Linked DNA regions of Homo sapiens. The protein of the gene in region 1 interacts with the protein of each later gene in a pairwise test. Each region holds a gene or a part of one and is shown in the gene's direction. Other genes may lie near its edges. The genes, in order: GPX7, TCF25, NCALD and GET3.

Region 1 (7,579 bases):
CAAACACATCGTGCCTGCTCCTGCCTCCAGGCCCTTGTACTTGCTGCTTCCTCTACCGAGACTGCTCTTCTACTTTCCTCTCTGACATTCTTTAGGTCTTTGCCCAAATACCATTTTCTCAGTGAGGCTTCCTGATCATTCAAATTAAAGTTACAATCCCTCCTTACTCTATACCATACTACTCTACCCTCTCCCCCGCTTAATGCCATGTAAAGTACTACATGTTGGCCGGTTGCGGTGGCTCACGTCTGTAATCCCAGCAGTTTGGGAGGCCGAGGCAGAAGGATCACTTGAGGCCAGGAGTTTGAGACCAGCCTAGCCAATATGATGAAACCCCGTCTCTACTAAAAATACCAAAAGAATTTAGCTGTGCGTGGTGGTGGCCGCCTGTAATCCCAGGTACTCAGAAGGCGGAGGCACAGAATCACTTGAACCCGGGAGGCAGAGGTTGCAGTGAGCTGAGATTGTGCCACTGCACTCCAGCCTGAGCGACAGAGTGAGATGCCGTCTCAAAAAAAAAAAAGTAAAGTACTGTAGGTTTTGTATGACTAGTTTTAGTTTTTATTCTTTCTCTCTCCCAACAGGCAAGGAAGAAGAAAGAAGCTCCCCCTGTACAGAGACAGAGGGAGGGGGTGATCCAAAGCCGAGAGAGGAAACCGCGAGTACAGCAGAAACCAGCCAGTTACATGAGGAGGCTGGAATAGGCGGTGTCTGATTTGCATAGGGCTCAGGGGATTGGTTTGACTAATTCATTCCTTTTTATGGCTGAGTAGTATTCCATCGTATGGAGTATGCCACAGTTTCTTTATCCACTCGTTGATTGACGGGTATTTCAGTTGGTTCCACATTTTTGCAATTACAAATTGTGTTGCTATAAACATGCATGACCAAGTATCTTTTTCACATATGAGCTGGGTTTTGAAGCATAAATAGGAAAGGAGAAAAGTGCCCAGGAAAGAAAGTTACAGCTGAGAAATATTTAACTATTAACTTTTTTCCCCCTGTTTAGTAGAAATGCCCATCTATCTGGATTTTTTTTTTTTTTTTTGAGACGGAGTTTCACTCTTGTTGCCCAGGCTGGACTGCAATGGCATGATCTTGGCTCACCGCAACCGCCGCCTCCTGGGTTCAAGTGATTCTCCTGCCTCAGCCTCCTGAGTAGCTGGAATTACAGGCATGCACCACCACGCTCGGCTAATTTTGTATAAACATGTGAGCCACCTCGCCCGGCTCATCTATCTGGATTTTAACAGGAAATAGCTTGGCCAAACTTGCAACACTCCAAGTTATATGAAGTAGAATTTGAGAACTCCTGGTTACTGGGACACTCAAGAAGGGGCTGAGTGAAAGGGACAGGTGGCAGGAAGAGAGCCCAATGGTTCCAGAAGGCAGAGAGAGAAGAGACCATTTAATAGCTGTGGGACCCATCACAGGCTTAAGGCTCCCAAAAGAGATGGGGAAGAAGGAGCAGGATGGGCAGGGGCACCTTATGTATGCCTTGGCCCTTGCCTGGAGCGCCGTTTCCTCTGCTCTCCACCTCTCCTGATAATATTGCCTTCTCCTGAAGAGTGAGGCCACCTTGGTGGTGCAGAAAAATCCCATGGTCTACACCTGAAGGCCTGGGTTCGAGTCCTAGTAACTATATGATCTTGTGGCCAGCTTCAAAACCTTTGCTTGCCACACTCTAGAGAGTGACTTGGCACTCAAGGCCCTTCTCTATCCTGATGACCCTTCCAATCTCATCTGCCCCACACCCCTTCTCACCTCAAACAGCCAAGCACTTCTCTGACTCTGTGCTGTCATAGATACTGCTCTTTCAGTCTGACGTTGTTGCCCTGACCCTCCTAGAGAATTCCCATTCCTCTTTCAAGATATAACTCCAGTATCACCTCACACCTCCAGAAGGCCTTGCCTGGCTGCTCAGGCTAGGTAGCAACTGCCTCTGGGTCTCTAGGAGGTAGCCCTGGAGCTACGTCAACTCCAACATCTAGACCACATCTGCTCTTGCCCTTTCCTATCAACTCCACAGAACAGCCAGAAGGATTTTTTTTTTGAGATAGTGTCTGTGTCACCCAGGTTGGAGTGCAGTGGTATGATCATAGCTCACTGCAACCTTGAACTCCTGGGCTCAAGCAATCCTCCTGCCTCAGCCTCCTAAATAGCTAGAACCACAGGCACATGCTACCACACGAGGCTAATTTTTAATTTTTATTTTTTTAGATGGAGTCTCGCTCTATCACCCAGGCTGGAGTACAGTGGCACAATCTCTGCTCACTGCAACCTCTGCCTCCCGGGTTCAAGTGATTCTCCTGCCTCAGCCTCCCAAGTAGCTGGGACTACAGGCGTGTGCCACCACACCTGGCTAATTTTTTGTATTTTTAGTAGAGATGGGGTTTCACTGCATTAACCAGGATGGTCTCGTTCTCCTGACCTTGCGATCTGCCTGCCTAGGCCTCCCAAAGTGCTGGGATTACAGGCGTAAGCCATCGCGCCTGGCCTAATTTTTTAATTTTTTGAAGAGACAGTTCTTGCTAGGTTGCCCAGGCTGGTCTTGAACGCCTGGCCTCAAGCAATCCTCCAGTCTTGGCTTCCCAAAGTATTGGGATTACAGGTGTGAGCCACCGGGCCCTGTCGAAAGAGATCTTTCTACAACAAAAGACTCATTGTGATACCTCCCTGCTAAAAAGAACCTTCATTTCTTGGTTTAAAGACCACAGTCCCTACTGTGGCCTACTAGGCTCTGTGTGATCTCACTCCCTCCTGCCTCTCCACCTTTCCCTCTCATCCTTTGTCCTCTCTGTTCCAACCAAATGAGGCTTCTTTGTTACTCAATGCACCATGTTCCTTTCCCCCCAGGACCTTTGCACTTGTATGTTGCTTCATCCTGACCAATTTCTCCTCATTCTTCAGAGCTCAGCTCAAATCTCCCTTTTTCTGGAAAGCCCTCCATGGCCCTCCAGGCTAGTTTAGGTGGTACTCACCACAACAGTAATTTTAGAGCTATTTATAAATTATTTAATTCCTGTGTCTCCCTGGATAGAGATAATGCCCTCCTGTTCATCCCTGCCTAAGAATCACCTAAAGCAAAACTTGGCATAGAAAAGGTGCTCAGGAAGTTTTTGTTGATGACCACAGGAGTGCTTAGCCCTTACCACATTACATAAAATCTGCAGTTTACCTGGTTTCTCTCACACCAGTCTGTGAGTTTCCAGAAAAAACTCACAGCCTGTGAGTACAGGATCCAGCTCCATGTTTGACATTTCATGGGCTCAACAGGGGTTTTCTGAGCAGGGGGAGACATTGTGATGTGCTGCCCAGATCCCCCATCACTGAGGACTTAGGACAGACACCAGCTGCTAGGAGTGCTGTTAGCACAAAGCCTTTAATGTCAGCTTCTCCACAGACAGGGCCATCTTGGCCCTTGTTGCCCCACTTGCCAGGTGGCCCCACATCCAAGGACTGATAAAGGCAGGATGACCTGGCCATCTTAGCTCATCTGATGGGCTACTCTAGCTCTAGAGTCCCTGTCGAGTCAGCTAAAACTGTCTTGGGGCCTGCATGGAGCTCACTACTTTCCCCCTGTGCCACTCCTGTTCCCTCCCATCCTTCCCACGCCTGTTGATCCCAAGGGTGCTCCCTCATAAACATCCTGCACTCCAATCTCCATCTCAGAATCTGCTTCCAGGAACCTAACCTGCAACAGGCCCACGGTCCTCTCTTCTTCTCCCAGCCATCACTTTCAGGGAACATGCATTCATTCACCTGAAGTTTGCAGGCACCATTCAACTGTTAAAGTGTTTCGCATCCGTTTTTCTATTACTTCCATCCTATACCGACTAGCTCCACTTAACATGTGGAGAAACTGAGGTCGGAGTGGGGGCGTGACCAGGCCAGCCTAAGGCCGCTGCACTAATGAGAAGCTGAGCTCTCAGATTTTTGCCTCCCTGTCCCTGCCAAGTCGCTGTTTCCTGGGACAAGAGGGAGCCTCACTGAAACGAACTCCGGTCTCAGGGGACAGAATCCTGAAACCCTGGCTCTGGGGTCCGGGGCAGGGGTGCGCTGCCTCAGGACAGACGGTGAAACTGAGGTCCAGAGCCGGACATCCACCGCCTGCGGAGGGAACGAGAACGCGGCGCGTCCTGCCTTGCGGGCCGAGCGGCGCCAGAGCCGCCTCCTCCCGCCCCCCGCGCTAGATCCCCCCGCCCCGTCTTTGCCCTCGCGACGCCGCCACCTCCGGAACAAGCCATGGTGGCGGCGACGGTGGCAGCGGCGTGGCTGCTCCTGTGGGCTGCGGCCTGCGCGCAGCAGGAGCAGGACTTCTACGACTTCAAGGCGGTCAACATCCGGGGCAAACTGGTGTCGCTGGAGAAGTACCGCGGATCGGTGAGTGCGCGGGGTCTGGCGGCGCCGCTGGGCCCGGCCTCGCCCTGGCGGGGCCTGCTGGGGACGCCCCGCAGCCCGGTCCCCCGCGCGGTGTGGCTCCGAGGACGCTCCAGCCGCGCGGCCGCCAAACCCCGGCCCCCGCCCCGCTCGGCCGTGACCTCTGGCGCGGCGCCCCCATCCCGCGCCCGGCCCGGCCCGGCCCGCGGCTACGTGGCACGGCCTTGGCGCGGAGGAACCCGAAGCGCTCGCAGTCGGCGCCCACTTCGCTACCGGCACCTTTGGGCAGCGGGGTCCAGACCTTCGCCGGGAGGCCGGGCACCACTGCCCAGCCTTTGCCATTCACGGGTGAAAAAAGTAACCGTAGCATCGTGCGGCCTTTCCCTCTCCCGTCCTCATTTTCTGCATCTGGAACGGGGAGTGGCTGATTCGGAGTCCAGTGAAGAACACTGTGGAGATCAATGTGCAGGGCAGAGAGAGAGTTATTTCAGATGCACGGAGACCTCACACGGATCATCCCTGGGAGAGGGCACAAAGGCCCAGAGAGGGCAGGCATTCGCACAAGGTCACACTACACTAGAAAGACGGGGCCTGGAAGAGAACCCCACCGCCACATCCGGGGTCCTCTCTAGGCCAAGTCCTTAGATGGCAGCTCAGGGGCACACATAAGAGTCATCCAGGCTAATTGCCCCCTCATTACCAAGAGGGAATCTAAGCTCAGAGAAGACTTCGGAGAGGAAGGGTATCTGGGTTGAGTCTTTGAATACGAGTGGATTTTAGCAAGACTAAGAAGCAAACAGCAAGAAGGGGGTGGGGGGGCGCGGGGCCAGGAGTTCCAGCTGTTGTGCTTCAAAGAGTCTAAAGCTGGAGGCTACGAGTGGTGGAAGATGAGGCTGAAACGACTGGCAAGGGAGCAGGCGGGACCTTGAACACTACATTGAGAGGCCTGCATGTCACATTATGTGCAGTGAAGAACTCCCAGAGTGGACCTCTTCAGGATGGACCTGGGGACTGGTGTGAAATGGCTGGGGAGTTGAAATCTAATGAACAGGTGGGCCAGCGTCCAGTTTTGGATGAACCACACAAAAATAGATGTCAACATTTTTCTCCTGGGAGCAACACCATCTTTAGTGAAGACCAGTACTCTATAAGCCTTGAAATTTTCGATTATGCTGGGAGTCTTGGGGACAGTAATCCCTGCTTGATTGTCCCCCAGAGTGTCGTGAGTTTCAAATCAGATGAAGGCGTGGATGCACTTAGTAAACTGTAGAGTGCTTTGCACCTGTGTTTGGTGGATCCCAGCAGGAACTTCATTTAGAACTCTGGGCAAAGAACCAAGAACAGGGCCCGCTCCAATTCAGGCCTCCTGTTCTCTCTAGGGCAGCTCACCAGAGAGCCCCAGGTTTAGCGTCTGACCAGCTCTGCTACTTATTAATTCGTTGTTCATTATTGAACACCTACTGTATACTAACTAGATACTAGGTCAGGCCCTGGGGATACAGTGGTGAACAAAACAGATACATTTCCACTAAATGGAGCTTACATGGGGTAAGGAGAAGAAAGACAATAAACAAGGAACTGAGAAATGCACGAGGTAATTCCTAGTAGTAGTAAGTGCTAAGACAAAAATAGAACAAGGTCACACAGCTAGTAAGACAGTAAGAATTTGAACCCAGACAGTCCAGCTCCAGAGTCTATGCTCTTAGTTGCCAAGTTCAGCAGTAAACCAGGGAACAGGGAGTCCAGAAAAGCTGTAATTGGTGCTGAGTTAACCCAGGCTAGGCTTGCTGCTTGGGCAATATGCTCATTCCTTCACCTGCAAACATTTACTGGCTCCTACTACATGTCTGACACTGGGTCCAGCTCTGATGACATAGTCATGAGCAAGATTGACATGGTTGATGCCCTCAGGCTAATTGGGACCATAGTCATTTAGACCAGTATGGATGAATGGGTGACCACTTGGGAATGTGTGGGGTTATGTGTAGTGTGTGCCTTTGTGAATGGTTTACTTCTTCTGTGTACAAATCTGAGTCTGTGTCTGTGCTTGTATATGTACATATGTAAATTAACTGTGTGTACTTGGGTGTGTCTGTCTGTGTTTTGGTTTCTAAGGACCAAGCTTTTTGGTTTCAGGGATGGAACTAGAAGCCAGATTTTCCCCCTTCCAAAAGAGCGGGCAGACATGCAAGTTGTGAGTTAAAAATAAGCAAGCTTTGGCCGGACGCAGTGGCTCACGCCTGTAATCCCAGCACTTCAGGAGGCTGAGGCGGGTGGATCACAAGGTGAGGAGTTCGAGGCTAGCCTGGCCAACATGGTGAAACTCCGTCTGTACTTAAAAAATACAAAAATTAGCTGGGCATGGTGGCGTGTGCCTGTAATCCCAGCTACTCAGGAGGCTGAGGCAGGAGAATTGCTTGAACCCGGGAGGTGGAGGTTGCAGTGAGCCAAGATCGCGCCACTGCACTCCAGCCTTGGTAACAGAGCAAGACTCTGTCTTTAAAAAAAAAAAAAAAAAAAAAAAAGCTTTAATGTTCTCATTGCCCAGGGATCCAGCAGGGGGAAAAAAAGGAAGAACCCTAACTGAGGAAGGGAGTTAACAGTCCCAGTTTCTCACCATTCCAGGCACAGTATGGTGTATGCTGACCTCAAATTGAGGAGGTTGTTCTAATAGCCAGTGGCCCCAGGCATGGGTCCTTTCTCACCTGGTGGAGGTAGGGTACAGGAGGTACAGCTCAGTGGTTCAATCATCTAGCCCAGTAGTTCTCAACTAGGAGTGATTATTCCCTTTAGGGCACAATTGGCAATGTCTGGAGACATTGTTGATTGTCAAGACTGGGCATCTAGTGGGTAGAGGCCAGGGATGCTGCCAAACATCTGATAATAAATAAACAGGACATCCCCCCGACAACAAAGAATTATCTGACCCAAATGTCAATTATGGAGGATAGGGCTAGGCTGCCTAGGCACCGGCTAGGGTTTTAAATCCATTAATAATATATACCTAGAAGCTAAAAACATAGCATTTGAGCCAAAATTCTAATCAAAGTCTTATAATCAAGTTCCATTAGCCAGCTTTGTATTTATTGCCTAAAGGCTTTAATAAATTTAAGGATTAGTCTAATGATAAAAGAAAGTGGTAGGCTGGGCATGGTGGTTCATGACTGTAATCCTAGCACTTTGAGAGGCTTAGCTGGTA
Region 2 (7,765 bases), on another chromosome or scaffold:
ATGTGCAGGGTAAGGTGGCAGGTCCCGTATAGTATAAAAAGGGAAAGTTCTTGCCCTCTAAGGAGCCCCTGTCCAGATGAGCAGGAAACGTGGCAGGTCCCGCATGGTATAAAAAGGGACGGTTCTTGCGCTCTAAGAAGCCCCTGTCCAGATGTGCAGCAAGCAGGAACCCCGTGCCAGTCTTCAGCCAAAAGGCACAGAGGAGACATCGGAGAGCACAGGGACAGAGAATATTCTCCAGGAAGCCCTGGCTGCCACGCAGGTCCCAGACTGGGGAGGGAGGTCCCCTAGCACTGAGTGTACCTGAATGTCTCTGGTGGTGCCTGGTTCATACCTCCTCCCTCTGTGCTGCAGATGAAGATGCCTTCTAAGAAATTTGGACACATCCCTGTCTACACACTGGGCTTTGAGAGTCCTCAGAGGGTATCAGCTGCCAAAACCGCGCCAATCCAGAGAAGAGACATCTTTCAGTGCGTTCTTCGCCTTGCTGCTGATGTCACTGTGGTGGTCGGGCGTGAAGAGGAACTTGGGAGCTGGGGTGGAGGGGGCTGGCTTTGTCTGTTTGCTAGGACACCCCAAGGAAATGGAAATGCAAGGCAGAGACGGATCGTTGTGTAGGGCTCTGGGAGGCTGAGCAGTATGAGATGGAAACTGGACTTGGGTGGTCAGGGAACAGTCTGCTGAGATGAACACTGCTAGCTGTGTTTGTTGCCTGAGGGCCAAGGGGAGGCCTAGGGTGAAAGGCAGCCAGGAGGGGGCTGTGGCATGCACAAGCAGGGAGGGGGGTGTGGCACCCTGGCTGGCTCCTCTCCCTGAGTGCCCTCTCCCACTTCCCAGGTCTCTGCAAGGGCCACAGTGGCAGAGCGTGGAGGAGGCGTTCCCCCACATCTACTCCCACGGCTGTGTCCTGAAGGATGTCTGCAGTGAGTGCACCAGCTTTGTGGCAGACGTGGTGCGTTCCAGCCGCAAGAGCGTGGACGTCCTCAACACTACGCCACGACGCAGTCGCCAGACCCAATCCCTCTACATCCCTAACACCAGGACTCTTGACTTCAAGTGACAGCCCCAGGTGGCCAGGCCTCCAGGAGGCACCAGGCAGGCCCTGTATCAGGCTAGGACGCTCTGAGCTGTGCATGTACATATATACATATATAGATACATTTATAATATATACACACAGTCTATATATTTATATACACTGTTTCCTGGCCCCAGAGCTCATTTGGGTTCAGGCGCACTTCAAAACCCTCCCTGGGGGAGGCTGTTTCTTCTCAGGATTCCTTGCCAGGGAGGAAGGGGAGGGAACAGGGTGGGTTTTCTCACTGAAGAGAGAAAGCAGAAGGTTCTAGATCCTGGCACAGACTGCATCCCATGTTCCCATGCTCTTCTCCGTCCCCAGGAATGCGAACGGCAGTTTCCCTTCCCCAGTGGACGTCTAGGTGGGGACAGGGTATCTTGGCTCCCAGCTGGACCAGAGTGCCCTGCTTGCCTCTGCTCTCCCTTTGTGGGGACTCAGGCAGCAGAGGCATCTGGGAAGTCTCTGAGTAGGCAGGGTCCTCCTGGGAGGCACCCCCACCTGTTTGAAAGGTCTGGCCAGGCGTGGTGGTTCAGGCCTGTAATTCCAGCACTTTGGGAGGCCGAGGAGGGAGGATCACCTGAGGTCAGGAGTTTGAGACCAGCCTGGCCAACATGATGAAATGTTGTCTCTACTGAAAATGCAAAAATTAGCCAGGTATAGTGGCAGGAACCTGTAATCCCAGCTACAGGGGAGGCTGAGGCAGGAGAATCGCTTGAACCCGGGAGGTGTAGGTTGCAGTGAGCCGAGATTGCACCACTGCACTCCAGCCTGGGCGACAGAGCGAGACTCTGTCTCGAAAAAAAAAAAGGTCCGTGCCAAGCTGCTCCCTGCCCTTGCCCTTTCCCTTTCCCTGGGGTCCAAACCACATGTGTCCTGCCTCTCCTGGCCCTACCACATTCTGGTGCTGTCCTCACTCGCCCCTGGCCCAGAGGCTCCTGAAGATGCTGGGCGGTCCTGGCACAGGGAGGAGCAGCTCTGTAAATCTGTGCACATGGCCACTCTTGGCCTAATAAAGGAGGTCTCACAGTCTTCTGTCTGGGATGTGCGCTGAGGATTCACCCAGCATGGCATGTTCTCCCAAGGTTGAAGCTGGGCTTGAGGGGCCACCTGCCTTCCAGGACGAGGAAAGGCCTCCTGGCTTAGAGTCAGGTGCCCACCAGGCAAGGGCTCCAGGCCTGCTCTGTCCACGCAGCCCTGGCTGCCTCTACCAGCTTCGTGGTCCTGGCCACCATGGTCAGGGCTGCATGCGGACGGCACAGACTACTGCCCATCAGCTCCTCTGGCCACACCTGCTGGCCTGGGGGGTACTTTGGTCTCATTTCCCAGATCCGTATTCTCGTTCTCCAGGGAGAGGATCCACAGGGGCAGGAGGTGTGACTGCAGGCTCTAGACAGGCCCTGTGCCGAGTGCTGTCTGCTCACCTGCGCCCGGCTCAGCCTGTTAACGGGGCCCTGCCCTGCTCCTCCGTGACGTTCTGCCGTCATCTTACCTTACAGATGAGGGAACTGAGGCTCAACGAGGTCAAAGAATTTGGCCAAAGATACACAGCTCACCCAGAACTTTGACTCCAGGCTGTAATGCTAGCCGTGGGGCCTGGAGGTCAGAAGGGACAGGACTTGTAACTGATGGGCCTGCGGGAGAAAATACTCCTGTCAGCTGGGGTCCAGGAAATCCAAACACACAAAATTAGAGCCCCCAGTAAAAACAGCCAGCTTCTAGCATGCGTGTAAGCATTTCACGGACTCTCTGGCCTGTATTTTTATTCCTGTTTAAAAATAAGAAAACAGGCACAGAGAGGGTCAGGGAACTCCTCCGGTCACACAGCCAGCAATAAGCTAATGTGTAGTGCTTGGTAAGGACGACGGTTGTTCTGGTTCTACGGGGACTCACACTCCCTATCATGGGGAGACTGGGTTGTAATTCATACAGGAACACTTGGAAATGAAAGCCCACGTTAAAACCCTAAACCACGGCAGGTGCAGTGGCTCACACCTGTAATCCCAGCACTTTTGGAGGGTGAGGTGGGCAGATCACTTGAGGTCAGGAGTTCGAGACCAGCCTGGCCAACATGGTGAAACCCCATCTCTACTGAGTACAAAAATTAGCCGGGCATGGTGGCACATGCCTGTAGTCCCAGCTACTCGGGAGGCTGAGACAGGAGAAGTGCTTGAGCCTGGGAGATGGAGGTTGCAGTGAGCCGAGATTGCGCCACTGCACTCCAGCCTGGGCAACAGAGCAAGACCTCATCTCACAAAATAAAATAAAACCCTAACCCATCCTGGGAGGGGCCAGGCCGGCTCACCAGGGCTGCTGCTTGTGCTCATGAAGCCGCAGTAAGTCGGGCAGGAGGCTGCTGGCACCTGTCTTCTCTATGCCCTCCTGTCCCCATGTCCCCAACCCCAGGCACAGGAAGCTGTGCCCTCCGCCCACTGAACCCAGCACTGTCTCAGCCTCATCTACTTTATTTTTTTCATTTTTTTGAGACAGGGTCTGGCTCTGTCGCCCAGGCTGGAGTGCAGTGGCGCGATCTCGGCTCACTGCAGCCTCAGCCTCCCGAGTAGCTGGGATTACAGGCGTGCGCAGCCACGCCCAGCTAATTTTTGTATTTTTAGTAGAGGGAGTTTCACCGTGTTGCCCAACCTGGTCTCGAATTCCCGACCTCAGGTGATTCGCCCACCTTGGCCTCCCAAAGTGCTGGGATTACAAGCGTGAGCACCGCGCCCGGCCCTTAGATCGTGACAAACGCGGGCGGCCTGTCCTAGAACTGTCAGAACCACTGTCCCTAAAGAGGCCTCGGGCGGGCAGTAAGGGCCGCGTCACTCAATGCTGCTCGAGGGGCGGCGGCTCCAGGGCAGAGGCGGGCATCGACGGCTAGATCACTCGAATGACACCCTGACACGAAAAGGACCAACTAGCAACGTCCGGGACGCAGCTGAAATGCTGCAGGCACGGTGCGGGGACAGGCCCCGGCGGGCAGAACGCGGCTGCGGGTTCCGGGCCACATGGATGGGCAAGGCCGGGCAGGGCCGACTGTCGCCGGCTGCGCGCCCGTTACCCCGAATCGAAGCCCGTCATCCCCGCGGGGCACCTCTCCATGCCCGGTGCGCACGGCGCGCAGACACCCAGCTCTCCAGAGACCTGGCCCGGACCCCCCGGAGCCCGCCCAGACGCCGCCGCTGAAGCGGGAAAGTTCCGGAGAGCCGCGACGCGCAGGCGCCGCAGCCAGGTCCTGCCCCCACCCCTCGCGCCAAGAGTGCGCAGGCGCGCAGCCAGCTCCCCCGCCCCCGACCCCGCGCGAAGAGTGCGCAGGCGCGCCGACAGCCGAGTTTTCTGCGCTTCCTTCTCCCTCTCTCCAGACGTCGTGGTCGTTCGGTCCTATGTCGCGCCGGGCCCTCCGGAGGCTGAGGGGGGAACAGCGCGGCCAGGAGCCCCTCGGGCCCGGCGCCTTGCATTTCGATCTCCGTGATGACGATGACGCGGAAGAAGAAGGGCCCAAGCGGGAGCTTGGTGTCCGGCGTCCCGGGGGCGCAGGGAAGGAGGGCGTCCGAGTCAACAACCGCTTCGAGCTGGTGAGGAGCGCGGCGGCCCGGGTGGGGGTGGGGTGGCCCTTGACGTTGTGGGGCGGGGCGAGCGTCCAGCCGGGTCGGGGAGCGGGGTTGTGATGCCAGGGGTGGGAAGGGTGACGTGGGTCCCAGCCGCAGTGGGGAGGGCGGGGCCGTGCGTCGGGGCCAGGGCGACGCGGGTGGGCGGTGGCGTGGGGTGAAGACGGCGGGCCGCGGAGTTAGACTGGGTTCTAACCCCGGTGAGGTGGGCGGGGCTAAGGGATGGGGCGGGGCCGTGCTGTCGGGGCGGGGCGACCGAATGGGCGGGGTTAAGCGGGGTCCGGGTTGTGGAGGGTGCGGGGCCTTGATGCCAAGGGCGTGGCCAACGTCCGCGGGGCCGGGCCACGACGTGGGCGGGATTAAATGGGCCTGCGGCCACGTGGCTGTCGTGGGGCCGTGACGCTAAAGGGCGTGGCTAAAGACGGGGGGGTGGCGAGGCGATGGCGTGGGCGGGGTTAAATGAGGCCTGGGGCCACCGTGGGGGTGGGGCCACGGCGTAGGGGCAGGAGTCGGGTGGGGCTTCCCTTTCTCGAGTCTAGAGGGGCCTTCTCTCGGTTCCAGGGTTGAGGACTTGCCAGGCCTCTGCGAGCATTCTGCTTTAATCCTCACAACAACTCTGCCTAACCCAGGGCCTTGCTCTTCGCGCATCCCCATCAGCCTAACCCAGCGGATTAGTCTTACTCTTTGCTGCATCTCCGGCAGCTCGTTTCTGGCACAGGGAAGTAACAGTTTGACTGTATGGTTTGCTCATGCGGTCCTGTGACGTTTTCTCCTAAGCCCTGGCCTCCGTCTGTAACTCTGCCTCTGCGGGCTCTGCGATCCTCCCACCTCAGCCTCCTGAGTATCTAGGACTACAGGTGGATGTCACCACGCCCGGCTAATTTTTTTTTTTTTTCTTTTTTGTAGAGAAGAGTTTTCGCCTTGTTGCCCAGGCTGGTCTAGAACTTCTGCGCTCAAACAATCTGTCCACCTCAGCCTCACAAAGTGCTGGGACTACAGGCGTGAGTCACCATGCTTGGTTGACTGCCCTTCTCGCATCAAGTCCACCTTTAGTGGTCCCCAAGACCCCCGTCAAGGTTCAGTAATTTGCTAGATTCACAGCAGTTACTGAAAGCTTTTTGTTTTGAGATGGAATCTTGCTCTGTTGCCCAGGCTGGAGTGCATTGGCACAATCCTAGCTCACTGCAACCTTGAACTCCTGGGCTCAAATAGTCCTCTCACCTTGGCCTCTCAGAGTGTTGGCATTAGAGGCATGAGCCACTGTGCTTGGCCCCGTAAGTCTTTTTAAATTTTTGTCAATGTAATTTGTGAAAAATGATATCACATTATTTTATTTTACACTTCTTTGGTAGTGAAATGCAGCACCTAGCTATGTATTCGTTGACCATTTATATTTCTCTTTGTGACAACCTGTTTATATCTTTGCCTTTTTATAGGGGGTTTGGACAGTCTTTTTGCTCGTGGAAGCTTGCTATCGATTGTCTCTAACGTATTTTCTCGGTTTGTGTTTGTTCTTTAACTTCTTTAATTTCTGCGTGCTGAAAGATACTGGAGCCACTTTTCTCATTGTTACACATCCATCTCTCTAGAGTGTCTTCACATAGATATTCCCTGACGTGAGTTTTTTTTTTTTTTTTTTTTTTTTTTTGAGATGGAGTCTCGCTCTGTCGCCCAGGCTGGAGTGCAGTGGCATGATCTCGGCTCACTGCAAGCTCCGCCTCCTGGGTTCACGCCATTCTCCTGCCTCAGCCTCCCAAGTAGCTGGGAACACAGGCGCCCGCCACCACGCCTGGCTAATTTTTTGTATTTTTAGTAGAGATGGGGTTTCACCATGTTAGCCAGGATGGTCTCGATCTCCTGACCTCGTGATCCGCCTGCCTCGGCCTCCCAAAGTGCTGGGATTACAGGCGTGAGCCACTGCGCCTGGCTTTTTTTTTTTTTTTTTTTTTTTTTTTTGGTTACAGACAGGGTCTCACGGTGTTGCCCAGGCTGGTTGCTGGTCTTGAACTCCTGGGTTCAGGTTATCCTCCTGCCTCAGCCTCCTGAGCAGCTGGGACTACAGCATACCCTACCATGCTCAGCTTGTTCTTTTAATGCTTTTTTTTTCCCATTTAAATATTTAATCTTTTTGGTATTTATATTTGTGTTGGTGGGAATTTGGAAAAAGTGTGGTTCATGAGTTGACAGAGTAAGAGTCTGTAAGGTCAGAAACCACACAAACCCTTGTGGACTTTCTGGAGTGAGTTTGAGTGTCAGTAACACTAACAGCCTCCATGGATGAATGACTGCTTATCGTGCTGTGTTCTTAGGAATTTCAGAGAATTTTATCCAGTGGCACACATCAGTCTTAATTTAAGCATTCCATACTTTTTTGCTCTTAAAACTCATATTTGGAAATAATATAATCAAAATGTTTATTGGCATTCTGTTAAATAGCTCTTAATAAACAGAAGTATGGGAGACAGTAAACAGCCAGTTACGACTAAATGGTTATGAATGTGAATGCATTGGTGAGAGACATGGTGTTTCTCTTTTTAAAAAATTTTATTTATTTAGAGACAAGATCTCTTTATGTTGCCTAGGTTGGTCTTAAACTCCTGGGCTCAAGAGATCCTTCCGCCTTGGCCTCCCAAAGTGCTGGAATTGCAGCTCCCAGTACTTTGGGAGGTGGGCAGATCACCTGAGGTCAGGAGTTCGAGAGCAGCCTGGCCAACATGGTGAAACCCCATCTCTACTAAGAATACAAAAATTGGGCCAGGCGTGGTGGCACATGCCTGTATTCCCAGCACTTTGGGAGGCCGACGTGGGCGGATCATGAGGTCAGGAGATCCAGACCATCCTGGCTAACACGGTGAAACCCCGCCTCTACTAAAGAAGTACAAAAAAATTAGCCGGGTGTGGCGGCGGGAGCCTATAGTCCCAGCTACTCAGGAGGCTGAGGCAGGAGAATGGCGTGAACCCAGGAGGCGGAGCTTGCAGTGAGCTGAGATCGTGCCACTGCACTCCAGCCTGGGCAACAGAGCGAGACTCCATCTAAAAAAAAAAAAAAAAAAAAAAAAATTGGCCAGGCATGGTGGTGGGTGCC
Region 3 (7,426 bases), on another chromosome or scaffold:
CAGTGCCTAGGAGTGCCTCACCCCCAGTAGACACTTAGTGCCTGTTTGTGGAATAAATGAGTTCCAAAAGGAGGTTGTCTCCTTCTTCTTCACTACTTCTTTCTGACTTTTTATGGATTGTTGTCTTAATCTCTATAAATGCTTTGTCCTTGGGGCTAGTAGAGCATAGGGCTAAAACCACTGGGCAACCAAGCAGCAGCCCACACTCACAGTTAGGCTCTCTCATTCACAAGCAGTGTCACCTGGAATAAGTCACCTAGCCTCTCTGAGTTTTCATTTATTTGCTTATGAGATAGAGAAAGCCTGCCTGCCTATCACACAGGTTGTGAAAGTTTAATAGGATGTCACATGAAAGATCATCTAGGATAAGGCATCATTTTCATTTATGGCAGCGTCTGGCCCTGACTGAATGCCAGAGCTTTACATGTTTGACTGTCTCATTTAACTCTCACATGGAATCAATAAGAGATGAACTCATATCATTAAACTCATTTTACAGATGAGAAAACTGAGGAGAACCAAAATGTTAAGTGAATTACCCACCAGCTAGTAAACAATAGAGCCAGGCTTTGAAGCCAAGCATTTTTATTCTAGTGTTTTTCCAGTGTTCATCCAACAGGACATCCAGGAGGCCAACGTGTCATAGTTCCCAACAGATTATATTCTGAGTTATCTACAAACTTTTTTGAGTCACTTGAAGATTTGTCTTTACACTCTGATTATAGTTTCCACCAGCCTATGCAGACTGCCAAGTAGGTCTCATTTTTTCCTCTTAGAAATGGTAAAATATCATATAGTCACTTATAAGAAAAACTGTGATTAGAAAAAATTTTAGCATTATCCACTTTATGGTCATTCAAGAATGTTAAGTGTGAGCAGAGAACAACAGTTCCACAACTTGATTAGTTGGTAGTTTAACATGGATGTCTGAAAGTCACATATACGTAATTTCTTAGGATTCTTAAATTAGTAAATCTAGTTTACTGAAGCAGTATTAGCATTACTATTTTAGATTGCAAAAATGCCTTAATTGTGTAGAATTGGCTTATAGAGTGTTACTTAAGAAAAATGTGATTCTACCTCTATTTCTGTTGTAGCACACTTAACAACAAACAAACATGAAAAGATATATTAGCTTTCATAGAAACATTTTTGTTCTGTAAATAGGTTAATGATATGGTAAGGCCCCTAAGATAACTGAATTAACATTGTTTATATTAATGTTACTGCTGTTTATAAGATAGTATGAATTTGTGGGCTTATCTGAATTGTAGGCCATTCCCGTGATTAAAAATAAAGACAAAACTTTGAGTTACTGTTTGCGAAAACCTTATTGTGCTATGTAGAAATATTGAACTAATATTAAAATATTTGATGCTTTGGTTTCAGGGATTGGTTTAAAATTGGAGTCCTTTTTTTATTGGTTAGTCTTACAAAAGTGTAAGCCATTATATTTTTGACTATTTAAATAAAAACAAATGTTATTTTAAATATACAGAATGGATTGATAGTATAGGAGAGTGTAAGTTCTTCATAGGAACTTTAGAAAAGAAATATATGCTAATTCAGTTTTTTTAATCTTCTGCACAGTATATATACACTTGGTAATTTTGAACTCAATTTTGTGTTTTGAAAATATGTGTTCATAATTTAGGTAATTTGCTACTTAAAGCAATAAGTCTCTGATACCTGAAAAGTAAATGTAAATGGCGACGGTGAAATAATACTGCAATTAACTTAATAGAGAAAAAATTATTAAAAGACAGCCTGTCATACCTATGTTCAACTAGCACAAAATAAATGTTTTAATGACTGACTGGAGTTATGAAAACGATTTGACCCAAGGTGCAATTTTTGTCTCCAAACTGTTTTTCTCTTAACTGCCAATTACTGTAGCATTTCCCTAATGTTATCCTGCCCCATCCCTTCGACTCAAACGGGCAGAAATTCCTGTCTTCCCAAAGAAAAAGGTATTGTCAGGCTTCCCTCTGTCTTCCTCCTCACCACCTAAGGAATGAAACTCTGTCAAATGTCCCCTAAGATTTGTGTTGTACCATCTAACCAAGTCCAGATGGTGTCTCAAGTTTAGTCCTCATACTTAGTAAAGTGTTTGTAGATGAATTCTAGGCTTAATTGTGAACACTCGTTTTCCCAATAACTTATTCCATGCTTTTCTGACTTGTTTGTGTTATGGCCTTTCTGTGCTGATGAATTTGTAAATGTGGTTTAATTACTGTTTACCAAAAAATAGCTGCACACAGATCAGTCTCAGTGGGAGACTTAGCTAAAATGTTGAGGCAATTTGTTTCTAGTGCAAAAGCAGCTAATAAATTTGAAGCACTTTTTAAACACTGGGAAAGGCACTTAAGTTTGGTTGTGAAGAAACAGTGCTTTATACATTGGAGACATAAATCATTCTTTAAGAGAGTAGATTTAAATATCAGAATGGCATTTTTCCCCAAGGCCAGGCAAGCAGCAATTTGCACAAACTGTAAAAATGGTGATTTGATTGAAAACCACACCAAAGAGATATATTCTAAAGAACTCCCCAAAAGGAAAACTTGAAATTACTTGTAAATTCCATAAAATGTCTCAGAGCTCTAGAAAGCCGGGTATTATGTATTACCGGATGTTTCTGAATTCTGGCCTCAGGCAAATTGCCAACTTAGCAACTAAATGACAGCTTTACAATTCTAATACAAACCAGCCTCTGTAACTCTGTTTTTTTAATCTCCAGGGGAAAAAAAGGACACAGAGGGAAGTGAAAGATATTAGACTGTTCAATTTATAAATTCCATTTGTTCTCCATTTGAGTTGCAGTTGAATTTTGCTTTTGCATAAAATGGTGTTTGCTTGATTCTGCCTAAAGAGGGAACTCTGGGCCAAGCGTGGTGGCTCATGCCTGCAATCCCAGCAATTTGGAAGACGGCATGAGCCCAGGAGTCTGAGACCAGGCTAGGCAACAAAGTGAGACCCCCATCTCTACAAAAAATAAAAAATTTAGCCAGGCATGGTGGTACACACCTGTAATACCAGCTATTTGGGAGGCTGAGGCAGGAGGATTGCTTAAACTCAAGAGTTTGAGGCTGCAGTGGGCCATGATTGCACCAGCACATTGCAGCCTGAGTGACAGAGTCTTAAAAAAAAAAAAAAAGGCAGGGGGAACCCAAAAAGTAAGTTCCTTCCTACAGCAGTTGGCCATACTCATAGGTGAAGTGCCCCATACTCCCATCACTTTGGACACCTGCATATGAGCAGGGCAGGTTTTGCCTCCAGTGCAGAAGTCAGAAAACAAAATCAATAAACTTGGCAATGAATGAGGATTGCTGGTCATTATCTGAACCATGAGTATTATGCAAGCAGTTTGAGTAGCGTGAGATACAAACACCACCCCGTAGAAGTTTATTTTTAGTGAGGCCACCAGACAGGCCTCACTAAATTCAATATAAGAGATCCTAAGCTCAAGTCTTAACCACCAGATAGTTTTCAGTGTGTAAAATAGCGTTCTGAAAACCAAGCCCCCGTGCTTCTGGCAGTGAGCCTCCTTTTCCAAAATTATTCCATGTTTCCACTTTGTAGTTACCTTCCTATCAGTCATTTTTCTCAGTCATGCCTTCATTCATTCATTCACCAAATGCCATTTGCGGTGGGCTCTAGGAAGACGAAGCAACCCCAGTGGAGACTCTGCCTCAAGGGCCTGACTGTGTAGCAGGAGGGAGACAGAAACAAACCCCAGAATGCGTGAAATCGCAAAGAAGATTGGCAATCATTAAAATGGGGATATGCTGTCTTTCAGGTATTCTGTAATTTTTCTAAGCTTTGCTTTCAGGTTTTTTTTTTCCAATAGACGAAAAATGCAAAATACAAGTGCAGAACTTTTTTTTGAGATGGGGTTTATCTTGACCACACTTCAATCATATACCTTGGGAATTAGGAACTAATCTCGTATATCACCTCCTCCAAGAAAGCTTCCCTGAGAGCACCCATGCCCCCTTTGGGTTGGGCATTTTTCCAGGTACTTTCACCAAATCCACTCTCTATTCTGTAGCATATCTGTCATATCGTCCCCTCACTGTTACCACCATCCCCTGCACACACAGCTAGGTGCCCTTAGGGAAAAGGGGCCACATCTTATTCTGCATCCACAGAACCAGAAACACACTGGTAATTGAGAGCCAAATGTTGAGGCAGTTTGTCTCTAGTGCAAAAGCACTATAAATGAGAAGCACTTTTTATACATTGAGAAAATAACTTCAGTTTGGTTTTGAAGAAATGGTGCTTTCTATACTCAGGAAAATAAATCATTCTTTAAGGGAGTAGCTTTAAATATAAAAGTGGCATTTTCCCCCAAGGCCAATAATAATTACAGGTATTTCCCCACCTAGTAAAAGTTACCTTTATTTTCCACACCATGTTAAGTTTAAAAATAGGTAACAAAAAGGTGTGCATTCTTGTTATGGAAACATATATTAACAGCATATTTAAGTACACATACGAAAAGTCTGGAAGAACACATATCAACATGCTAGCAATTGTTATCTCTCAGGGTTAGTATTTGAAGTGATACTGCTTTTTTTCCCTATGTATCACTCTTTTACTATGTTACTATAACTATGTGCTACTGCCATGATAAGAAAATGCAAAGTTATTTGTATTTTAAAGAGAAACATTTGACCTATTTTATAAGCCAAAATCATGACATAACTTTATGAAGCATCATCTTTACTATCAAAACCCAACATTGTCAGTGATTTATTCCATGCGTTTAAATCCCTGAACTAGCATGTTGGAGTTTGGTGGTATTAGGTTTGCTTCCATTTTCTGTCTTTATGTCTGTGTTTATAATATTCAGAAGGTATCCAAGCAGCATTTTACTTGGAAATATTCTAGCAATAAAACCTGCTAAATTCTTTCCCTTGGTCTCTCTCTTCCTCCTTTCCTTTAATTTTCCCTGCTAATACTTGGATTAGCTATCAGAACCCCAGCCTTCTTAAATTTAAGCTCAACCTCTGGCAAATTGATGTCAAAATTAACTAAGCAATTAATTCTCCCTCTCTCCCTGCCCTCATTTCCCTCTACCTCACGCTCTCTCTGAACCTTTTGCTTTCAGGATGGCTCTGTATAAAAGAAGTATTCATTTTCTGGTCAGTGATAATTCTGCTGTGCATCCTCTACTGGCCTATCTTTCTATTATTTTGTTTGGCTGACCAGTGTGTTGCAAAACCTAGACAGTGTTACTGGACTCGTATAGAGTTTATTTGTTTGTTTTTTCTTCTTCCCAAAGGAACAATTACAAATTATAAAATGCAGCCCTAAAGAGCAGCTCTACAAATTATATATGTTTTCTTTTCTATCTGCAGCTGAATTCTTGCCGCCAGGATGGGGAAACAGAACAGCAAGCTGCGCCCGGAGGTCATGCAGGACTTGCTGGAAAGCACAGACTTTACAGAGCATGAGATCCAGGAATGGTATAAAGGCTTCTTGAGAGACTGCCCCAGTGGACATTTGTCAATGGAAGAGTTTAAGAAAATATATGGGAACTTTTTCCCTTATGGGGATGCTTCCAAATTTGCAGAGCATGTCTTCCGCACCTTCGATGCAAATGGAGATGGGACAATAGACTTTAGAGAATTCATCATCGCCTTGAGTGTAACTTCGAGGGGGAAGCTGGAGCAGAAGCTGAAATGGGCCTTCAGCATGTACGACCTGGACGGAAATGGCTATATCAGCAAGGCAGAGATGCTAGAGATCGTGCAGGTACGTAGACTGAGCCCTTTAAAAAAAGAAGGGCATGTATCTCAAGTAAGAATTGGAAGGTGCACAGTATAGCACGGTGCAGAGGTTGCAAACTGGTGAGTCACCAGGACACTTCATTTGGCCCACCCTGCATGTTTGAACAGTTTAAACTGCATTACAGTGTGGGGAGACTGCACATAAAAATCCACACTGGTCGGCATCTCTTGAAAAACTAGACTAGTGGGACTCCCGGGTCATAGGTGCATTTAAAAATGTTCTGATTGGCAATTGGTTGTAAGAGTTACGATCAATAAAAAGGAATGTCTAGATTATGATTAGTGGTTGTGGAGACCAAGGTTTTACCATACAGATGAAGACTCTTAAGTAGCAGGCTTCAGAGAAAATAGCTTGGAAATGTTTCTTATCAGATGTAAAATCTGTGTTGCTGTTAATGCTGGTGGGCTTTTCCTGAATTCCAAGAGGAAGGAGGGTATAATGAGGCATCTCCAACACCCCTTCCATCATGGCCTGAGCATGTTTTTCAGATTAACTTTAGAATGCCCTTGGCTGAGAGGAGTGGTTCATTCAGATGATTGGGGGAGCCTTAGAATTTTATTTTTTGGTTTACAGCACCATGTTAGCTCCTGCTCAACACTTTTGCCCAGTCGTCCTGGCTGCTGTTGGTCAATGGTTTTGTGATCAGTACTGATGAAGATGCAGACGCTGAGGCAGGGAGGAACATTTAGTCTTCGTGGGCTGATGAAATCAACACTCCCTGCTAAGAACTCAGCCCTGAACAAATAGTATAGGGTGGAAAATGGACACTGTCCCTTTTCTGTGGAATCCAGTTTGTGAAAGAGACAGAGAGAATTGCAGAGAATATGCAGAAGGTATGAATTGACCCCCACCCAGCCCCTGTTGACTTCACTCCACCACATTTGCTAAGGAATGTAAAAAGTGATCATTAAAAGGAAGGTGCTTTGGGGCAATGTCCTTTGGAAAAATAAATAAATAAATGAAATGAAATGAAATAAATAAAAGGAAGGTGCCTCAGCCTCCCAGAGGCATTTTCTTCACTGTAAAGCACCTCAGTCCATTCACAGGCCCACAGTGTTTCCAGGCTATAATTGTAAGGACACCCATTCCTTACAAAATGCTCAGACACTCATGGCTCTTAAGAAGACTGCAAAGGAAAGCTTGAATTTCTTAAACTGTTTCCTAGAGTGCTAAGTCCTGATGATTAATATTCATGATCACAGAAAGGAAATATTGTAGCATCCCGAGGTGACTTCCAAATCATCAAAGAGATTAAATTAAACTTAGAACCATTTTCATATTAAGGGCTATGTTATTCTATTCTGCTACTTTGCAAACTGACAATTCATGTATTCTGCCACATTCTTATGCTAATCTCCCTGCTTTCAATTATTCTGGATAAACTGGAATTTACTGTAGGATCTCACAGAGCTTCCCATTCTATTTTTTGTTGTTGTTGTTTTTTCCCTCCCTTTTTGAAAACCCACACTCCTCAAGCCTTGTCACTGCCGCAGGAAGCTTTGTGCCTTTGTCTGGCCGTCTTTTCTTTGTTGTAGCTGGTCTGCAGCACTCAGGAAAATGCTCCTTTGCTTCAGAGCAGTCACTGTCAAGTTTCTGTTTTGTGCCTTTCTAAATATCTCTTAGAAAGTGATGA
Region 4 (7,426 bases), on another chromosome or scaffold:
TTTTCTCACGTCTCAAAAAAAAAAAAAATTGGCTGGGCGCAGTGGCTCACTCCTGTCATCCCAGCACTGTGGGAGACCGAGGCGGGTGGATCACAAGGTCAGGAGATCAAGACCCTCCTGGCTAACACGGTGAAAGCCCATCTCTACTAAAAATACAAAAAATAGCTGGGCATGGTGGCAGGCGCCTTTAGTCCCAGCTGCTCAGGAGGCTGAGGCAGGAGAGTGGCGTGAACCCCGGAGGCGGAGCTTGCAGTGAGCTGAGATCGCGCCACTGCACTCCAGCCTGGGCGACAGAGCAACACTCTGTCTCAAAAAAATAATAAAGGCCGGGCACGGTGGCTCACATCTGTAATCTCAGCACTTTGGGAGGCTGAGGCGGGCAGATCACAAGGTCAAGAGACTGAGACCATCTTGGCTAACACGGTGAAACCTCATCTCTACTAAAAATACAAAAAAATTAGCCAGGTATGGTGGCGGGCACCTGTAGTCCCAGCTACTCCGGAGGCTGAGGCAGGAGAATGGCGTGAACGCGGGAAGTGGACCTTGCAGTGAGCCGAGATCGCGCCACTGCTTTACAGCCTGAACAACGGAGCGAGACTCAACAAAAAATAATAAATAAAAATAAAATAAAATAAAGAGATGCTGCAGAGTGAGGATGCTGGCAGAGGACAGTCCTCAGGTGGGATGAGCTCCATCCAGCATACAGACCCAGAACTTGGGCGCTGCCAGGGTCAGGGACTGGGAGGGAAACAGGAGGAATTGGGGCACTTCCCGGGCAGAGATGAGGGTGTTGGCAGCCAATGGCTTCTCTTTCTCACCAAGGAACAGGCAAGGGTCTCAGCAGTGAATGGGATAGAAGTTTGAGGAGGGAGAAAATACCACATAAACACTTATTAAGGTAGCAGGGGGAACCAGAATTGTCTGGATCATCAAGTGCCCATTGGAGATTTGTGTTCAGAAGAGGGGAGCAAGGGCGGGCGTGGTGGCTCATGCCTGTAATCCCAGCACTTCGGGAGGCTGAGGCAGGTGGATCAGAAGGTCAGGAGTTAAAGACCAGCCTAGCCAAGATGGTGGAACTCCATCTCTACTAAAAATACAAAAATTAGCTGGGCATGGTGGCTCACGCCTGTAATCCCAGCACTCTGGGAGGCCGAGGTGGGCGGATCACAAAGTCAGGAGATTGAGACCAGCCTGGCTAACAGGGTGAAACCCCATCTCTACTAAAAATACAAAAAGTTAGCCGGGCGTGATGGCGGGTGCCTTTAATCCCAGTTATTCGGGAGGCTGAGGCAGGAGAATGGCGTGAACGCGGGAGGTGGAGCTTACAGTGAGCCTAGATCGCGCCACTGCACTCCAGCGTGGGTGACAGAGCAAGACTCCATCTCAAAAAAAAAAATACAAAAATAAGCCAGGCACGGTGGCTCACGCCTGTAATCCCAGCACTTTGGGAGGCTGAGGCGGGCAGATCACCTGAGGTCGGGAGTTCGAGACCAGCCTGACCAATATGGTGAAACCCCGTCTCTACTAAAAATACAAAAATTAGCCTTGCGTGGTGGCCGGCACCTGTAGTCCCAGTTACACGGGAGGCTGAGGCAGGAGAATTGCTTGAACCTGGGAGACGGAGGTTGCAGTGAGCCGAGATCATGCCACTGCACTCCAGCCTGGGATACAGAGCGACACTCCATCTCAAAAAAAAAAAATTAGTTGGGCCTGGTGGTGGGCGCCTGTAATCCCAGATACTCGGGAGGCTGAGGCAAAGAATTGCTTGAACCTGGGAGGCGGAGGTCACAGTGAGTCGAGATTGTGCCACTGTACTCCAACCTGGATGACAGAGCGAGACTCCGTCTCCAAAAGGGTGAGGAGCAAGATGGGAATACTCTTCAGGAGTGTTCGGCCCTCAAGTGCAGTGATACTAAAGAGCTAGAAAGCCATACCTATCATTTCAGTGCTTGCAGAGACTGAGACAAGAGGATCACGTGAGGTCAGGAGTTCAAGACCAGCCTGGGCAACAAAGGGAGACCCTTTCTCTACAAAAAACAAACAAAATTAGCTGGGCATGGTGGTGTGTGCCTATAGTCCCAGTAAGTTGGTAGGTTGAGGCAGGAGGATCATTTGAGCCTAAGAGTTTGAGGCTGCAATGAGCTATGTATGAGATGGTATCTTTTTTTTTTTTTTTTTTGAGACTGAGTTTCACTCTGTCACCCAGGCTGGAGTGCAGTGGTGTGATCTCAGCTCACTGCAACCTCTACCTCCTGAGTTTAAGCGATTCTCCTGCCTCAGCCTCCCAAGTAGCTGTGATTACAGGCGCCCGCCACCACATCCGGCTAATTTTTGTTTTGGGGGGGTTTTTTTTGTTTGTTTTGAGACGGAGTCTTATTCTGTCGCCCAGGATGGAGTGCAGTGGCGCAATCTCGGTTCACTGCAACCTCTTCCTCCCGATTTCAAGTGATTCTCCTGCCTCAGCCTCCCGAGTAGCTGGGACTCCAGGTGCATGCCACCATGCCCGGCTAATTTTTAGTATTTTTAGTAGAGACGGGGTTTCACCATGTTAACCAGGATGGTCTCGATCTCCTGACCTCGTGATCCACCCGCCTTGGCCTCCCAAAGTGCTGGGATTACAGGCGTGAGCCACCGCGCCTGGCCTGTATTTTTTTTTAGTAGAGACGGGGTTTCAACATGTTGGCCAGGCTGTTTTCAATCTCCTGACCTCAAATGATCTGCCTGGCTTGGCTTCCTAATACACTGGGATTACAAGTGTGAGCTACCGCGCCCGGCCAAGACGCTATCTCTAAAAGAAAGAAAAAAAAAGCTGGAAGTAACCAGAGTGGGGGATTTTGCCAACAGCAAGGGGAAAGGGAGTGTTTGCAGAGGGAACCTGTGGAGGCTGGGCTGGATAAGGGTGCCAGCCAAGAGGAACACTGACAGTTTACAGGGGCCAGGTGAGGGGATGAAGTAGTCCAAAGAAGCTTAAAATATATGAAGCATAAGAAGAGGGTGCAGTGATGAGTGGGCAAGCTCCCCAACAGGGAATGACCCCTAAGGCCAGCGAGTTGGGTACTTCCCCATGGGACCCATGAAGTTACCAAGAAGAGGTGACAGAGGAGGAAGATAAAGAGGGAGGCATTGGCCGGGCATGGTGGCTCATACCTGTAATCCCAGCATTTTGGGAGGCTGAGGTGGGTGGATCACCTGAGGTTGGGAGTTGAAAACCAGCCTGACCAACATAGAGAAGCCCCGTCTCTACTAAAAATACAAAATTAGCTGGGGTGGTGGCGCATGCCTGTAATCCCAGCTACTCAGGAAGCTGAGGCAGGAGAATCACTTGAACCCTGGAGGCGGAGGTTGCAGTGAGCCAAGATCACGCCATTGTCCAGCCTAGACAACAAGAGTGAAACTCCATCTCAGAAAAAAAAAAAATTACAAAAATTAGCCAGGCATGGCCAGGCGTGATGGCTCGTGCCTGTAATCCCAGCACTTTGGGAGGCCGAGGTGGGTGGATCACGAGGTCAGGAGATCGCCACCATCCTGGCTAACACAGTGAAACCCCGTCTCTACTAAAAATACAAAAAATTAGCCAGGTGTGGTGGCGGGCGCCTGTAGTCCCAGCTACTCACTGCACTCCAGCCTGGGTGACAGAGCGAGACTCCATCTCTTTTTTTTTTTTTTTTTTTTTTTTGAGATGGAGTCTCGCTCTGTCGCCCAGGCTGGAGTGCAGTGGCGTGATCTCAGCTCACTGCAGGCTCCGCCCCCTGGGGTTCATGCCATTCTCCTGCCTCAGCCTCCCAAGTAGCTGGGACTACAGGCACCCGCCACCTCGCCCGGCTAATTTTTTGTATTTTTAGTAGAGACGGGGTTTCACCGTGTTAGCCAGGATGGTCTCGATCTCCTAACCTCAGGTGATCTGCCTGCCTCGGCCTCCCAAAGTGCTGGGATTACAGGCGTGAGCCACCACGCCCGGCCAAGACTCCATCTCAAAAAAAAAAAAAAAAAAAAAAATTAGCCAGGCATGGTGGGGCATGCCTATAGTCTCAGCTACTCGGGAGGCTGAGGCAGGAGAATTGCTTGAACCCAGAAGGTGGAGGTTGTGATGAGCTGAGATCGCGCCACTGCACTCCAGCCTAGGCAACAAGATCAAAACTCCATCTCGGGAAAAAAAAAAAAAAAAGAGGGAGGCATTGAGTCTGAGACTGGCCAGGGACCCCAGCCATGGCCATCCCTTCATAGATTCTACATACATGTTTGTGTTTTGTTTTGTTGTTTGTTTTTTGAGACAGAGTCTCCCTCTGTCACCCAGGCTGGAGTGTAATGGCGTGATCTCGGCTCACTGTAACCTCTGCCTCCCGGGTTCAAGCGATTCCCCTGCCTCAACCTCCAGAGTAGCTGGGATTATAGGCACCCGCCACTATGCATGGCTAATTTTTGTATTTTTAGTAGAGACGGGGTTTCACCATGTTGGCCAGGCTGGCCTCAAGCTCCCGACCTCAGGTGATCTGCCCGCCTCCGCTTCCCAAAGGGCTGGAATTACAGGCATGAGGTACCGCGCCTGGCTGGATTCCCCATATGTGCTGACGACCTCTGTGCCAGGCACTGTTCATGCTAAGCGCTAAGGACACAGCAGTGAACTAGATGGTAAAACCCCTGCCCCTGAGGGGCAGACATTCCTGCTATGGAGACAGATGATAAACATGATAAGGGAATCATGAGGGATGTGAGGAAGGGCTAATTTTTTTTTCAGATAGGTCTTGCTATATTGCCCAGGCTGGTGTCCAACTCCTGGGCTCAAGCGATCCTCCCATCTCATTCTCCTGAGTACCTGGGACTACAGGCGTGAGCTATCCTGCCCAGCTCCTAAGGGCTAAACCTTAAGGAGAAAGGAAGGCAGGGCAGGGGTGTCGGTGGATCTGTGCTGTTACTTAGGGTGGTCAGGGAGTCTCTCAGTGGAGGGATGATGATCCGGAAGAGGTCATGGCCCAGTCATGGGAGTATCTGGGGTTGCAAGTGGCAGGTTGCAAGTGGGGAGTAGCAGTGTAAATGGCCCGCAGTGGGTTTCAGCTTCCCTTTGAGGGCCCTGGGCACAGCTTGCAATTTTCCCCTTGTTTTTGACCCTTTATGCAACCATACAAAACCCTAAGTACTACCTCAGGGTCCCCCCAGCCGTGACCTAATGAAATGCCTGTGGTCACAGCCCACCACAGGCTCCCTCTGGCCCTGTGCCCGGGTAGGAAGGCTCCCCCTGGCCCTGTGCCCAGGTGGGAAGGCTCCCCCAGCAGTAGCAGCAACCTCAGTCTCATCCCTTTGGCCCCCAGGAGATTGACCCCAGCCTGGGCGTGGCGGAGCTGCCTGACGAGTTCTTCGAGGAGGACAACATGCTGAGCATGGGCAAGAAGATGATGCAGGAGGCCATGAGCGCATTTCCCGGCATCGATGAGGCCATGAGCTATGCCGAGGTCATGAGGTCAGGCCCAGCCAGCAGGGGTGGGGGCTGCCTGGGGAAGGGGAAGAGCGGACACAGAGGGCCTGACCCCTGTCTCCCCTCAGGCTGGTGAAGGGCATGAACTTCTCGGTGGTGGTATTTGACACGGCACCCACGGGCCACACCCTGAGGCTGCTCAACTTCCCCACCATCGTGGAGCGGGGCCTGGGCCGGCTTATGCAGATCAAGAACCAGATCAGCCCTTTCATCTCACAGGCAGGCGGCGGGGGCCCCCACCTGCACCATCCAGGCAGCCGGGAGTGGGAGTAGGCCCGGGCCCCCAGACCCTCAAATGCGCACTAACAATTCCCTTTCCTTCCCACCCCTTCTCACTCTGGACTTCTCCCTGGAGGGGATGGGACGGAGCTGTCTTTCCTCCCCCACAGGCAGGACTCAGTGTCCCTGCCCCTGCCCGCTAAATACCCTAGACAGAGCCAGAAAGCACATTCCAGAACCAGGCAACCTGCCTTCAAACCCTCTACACTCACCATGTGACCCAACTGCTGTGTGACCTCAAGCAAATCACTTCACCTCTCTGGGCCTCACCTTCCTTGTCTTGCAAATGGAGATCATGAGAGTGCCCCATGGGTTATTATTATTATTATTCGAGACGGAGTCTCGCTCTGTCACCCAGGCTGGAGTGCAGTGGTGCGATCTTGGCTCATTGCAACCTCCACCTCGTGGGTTCAAGTGATTCTCGTGCCTCTACCTCCCAAGTAGCTGGGACTACAGACATGTACCACCATGCCCAGCTAATTTTTGTACTTTTTGTAGAGATAGGGTTTTGCCATGTTGCCCAGGCTGGTCTTGAACTCCTGGCCTCAAGCAGTACACCCACTTCGACCTCCCAGAGTGCTGGGATTACAGGCATGAGCCACTGTGCCCAGCCCCCATGGGTTATTATTACGATGACAACCCTAAAGCCCCCACAGTGCTGCACACCACCAGCACCACCCACCATGGTGTATGTGCACGTGTGGGTGTGTGCGTGTCCCCTGTGGGGACCTGTGCCTCAGGTGGTAACACTGAGCACTTACTGTGTGCCAGACACTATTCTCAGCACATTATATGCTTCAGCTCATCTGGTACAACAGATCTGGGAGGTAAAGTTTAGAGATGGGGAAACTGAGGCTCCAGGAGGGTCAAGCCCCTTAGCTATGGTTCCCTAAAAATGGCAAAGCTGAGGCCGGCCGCAGTGGCTCATGCCTGTAATCCTAGGACTTCGCAAGGCCGAGGCAGGTGGATTGCCTGAGGTCAGGAGTTCAAGACCAGCCTGGCCAAAATGGTGAAACCCCACCAGTACTAAAAATACAAAAATTAGCCGGGCATGGTGGTGCGCGCCTGTAATCCCAGCTACTCAAGAGGCTGAGGCAGGAGAATCGCTTGAACCCAGGAGGCGGCGGTTGCAGTGAGCCAAAATCACGCCATTGTACTCCAGCCTGGGCAACAGAGTGAGACTCCATTTCAAAAAAAAAAAAAAAAGAAAGAAAGAAATGGAAAAGCTAGTATTTGACCAACCCCAGGAATCTGCTTATGGGCCTGAGCCTTTAACCACTGGGAGGTATCAGGAGTCATCCCTCGGGTGTTTAGTGAACCCCCAACCCAGGAGGTCGCCGCAGGTAAGCTATGAGCCCTCCCACATCCCCCCTGCAGATGTGCAACATGCTGGGCCTGGGGGACATGAACGCAGACCAGCTGGCCTCCAAGCTGGAGGAGACGCTGCCCGTCATCCGCTCAGTCAGCGAACAGTTCAAGGACCCTGTGAGTGGTGGTCTGGCTGGCGGTGAGAGGCCCGGGGGCTGAGGACAGGGGCAGACCCCGCCCCTCACTGTCCTCTCTCGTGCCCTGTAGGAGCAGACAACTTTCATCTGCGTATGCATTGCTGAGTTCCTGTCCCTGTATGAGACAGAGAGGCTGATCCAGGAGCTGGCCAAGTGCAAGATTGACACACAC

The links.
Region 2: the proteins of GPX7 (region 1) and TCF25 interact in binary tests that used the Homo sapiens proteins (3 or more experiments, as listed by UniProt).
Region 3: the proteins of GPX7 (region 1) and NCALD interact in binary tests that used the Homo sapiens proteins (3 or more experiments, as listed by UniProt).
Region 4: the proteins of GPX7 (region 1) and GET3 interact in binary tests that used the Homo sapiens proteins (3 or more experiments, as listed by UniProt).

What each region holds. Positions count from the first base shown.
Region 1 is NC_000001.11:52,598,165-52,605,743, forward strand, and holds the start of GPX7 (glutathione peroxidase 7 precursor), read left to right. Parts: upstream 1-4,206; 5' UTR 4,207-4,245; coding exon 4,246-4,383; exon of another isoform or gene 4,384-5,401; coding exon of another isoform or gene 5,402-5,431; intron 5,432-5,455; exon of another isoform or gene 5,456-5,965; coding exon of another isoform or gene 5,966-5,974; intron 5,975-7,579. UniProt on the Homo sapiens protein: It protects esophageal epithelia from hydrogen peroxide-induced oxidative stress. It suppresses acidic bile acid-induced reactive oxygen species (ROS) and protects against oxidative DNA damage and double-strand breaks.
Region 2 is NC_000016.10:89,869,213-89,876,977, forward strand, and holds the start of TCF25 (ribosome quality control complex subunit TCF25), read left to right. Parts: upstream 1-4,379; 5' UTR 4,380-4,455; coding exon 4,456-4,647; intron 4,648-7,765. Other genes in the region: SPIRE2 (protein spire homolog 2), read left to right, coding at 355-470, 838-1,060. UniProt on the Homo sapiens protein: Component of the ribosome quality control complex (RQC), a ribosome-associated complex that mediates ubiquitination and extraction of incompletely synthesized nascent chains for proteasomal degradation.
Region 3 is NC_000008.11:101,717,583-101,725,008, reverse strand, and holds part of NCALD (neurocalcin-delta), read left to right. Parts: intron 1-3,657; exon of another isoform or gene 3,658-3,796; intron 3,797-5,360; 5' UTR 5,361-5,379; coding exon 5,380-5,757; intron 5,758-7,426. UniProt on the Homo sapiens protein: May be involved in the calcium-dependent regulation of rhodopsin phosphorylation. Binds three calcium ions.
Region 4 is NC_000019.10:12,740,071-12,747,496, forward strand, and holds part of GET3 (ATPase GET3), read left to right. Parts: intron 1-5,306; coding exon 5,307-5,455; intron 5,456-5,538; coding exon 5,539-5,689; intron 5,690-7,126; coding exon 7,127-7,234; intron 7,235-7,324; coding exon 7,325-7,426.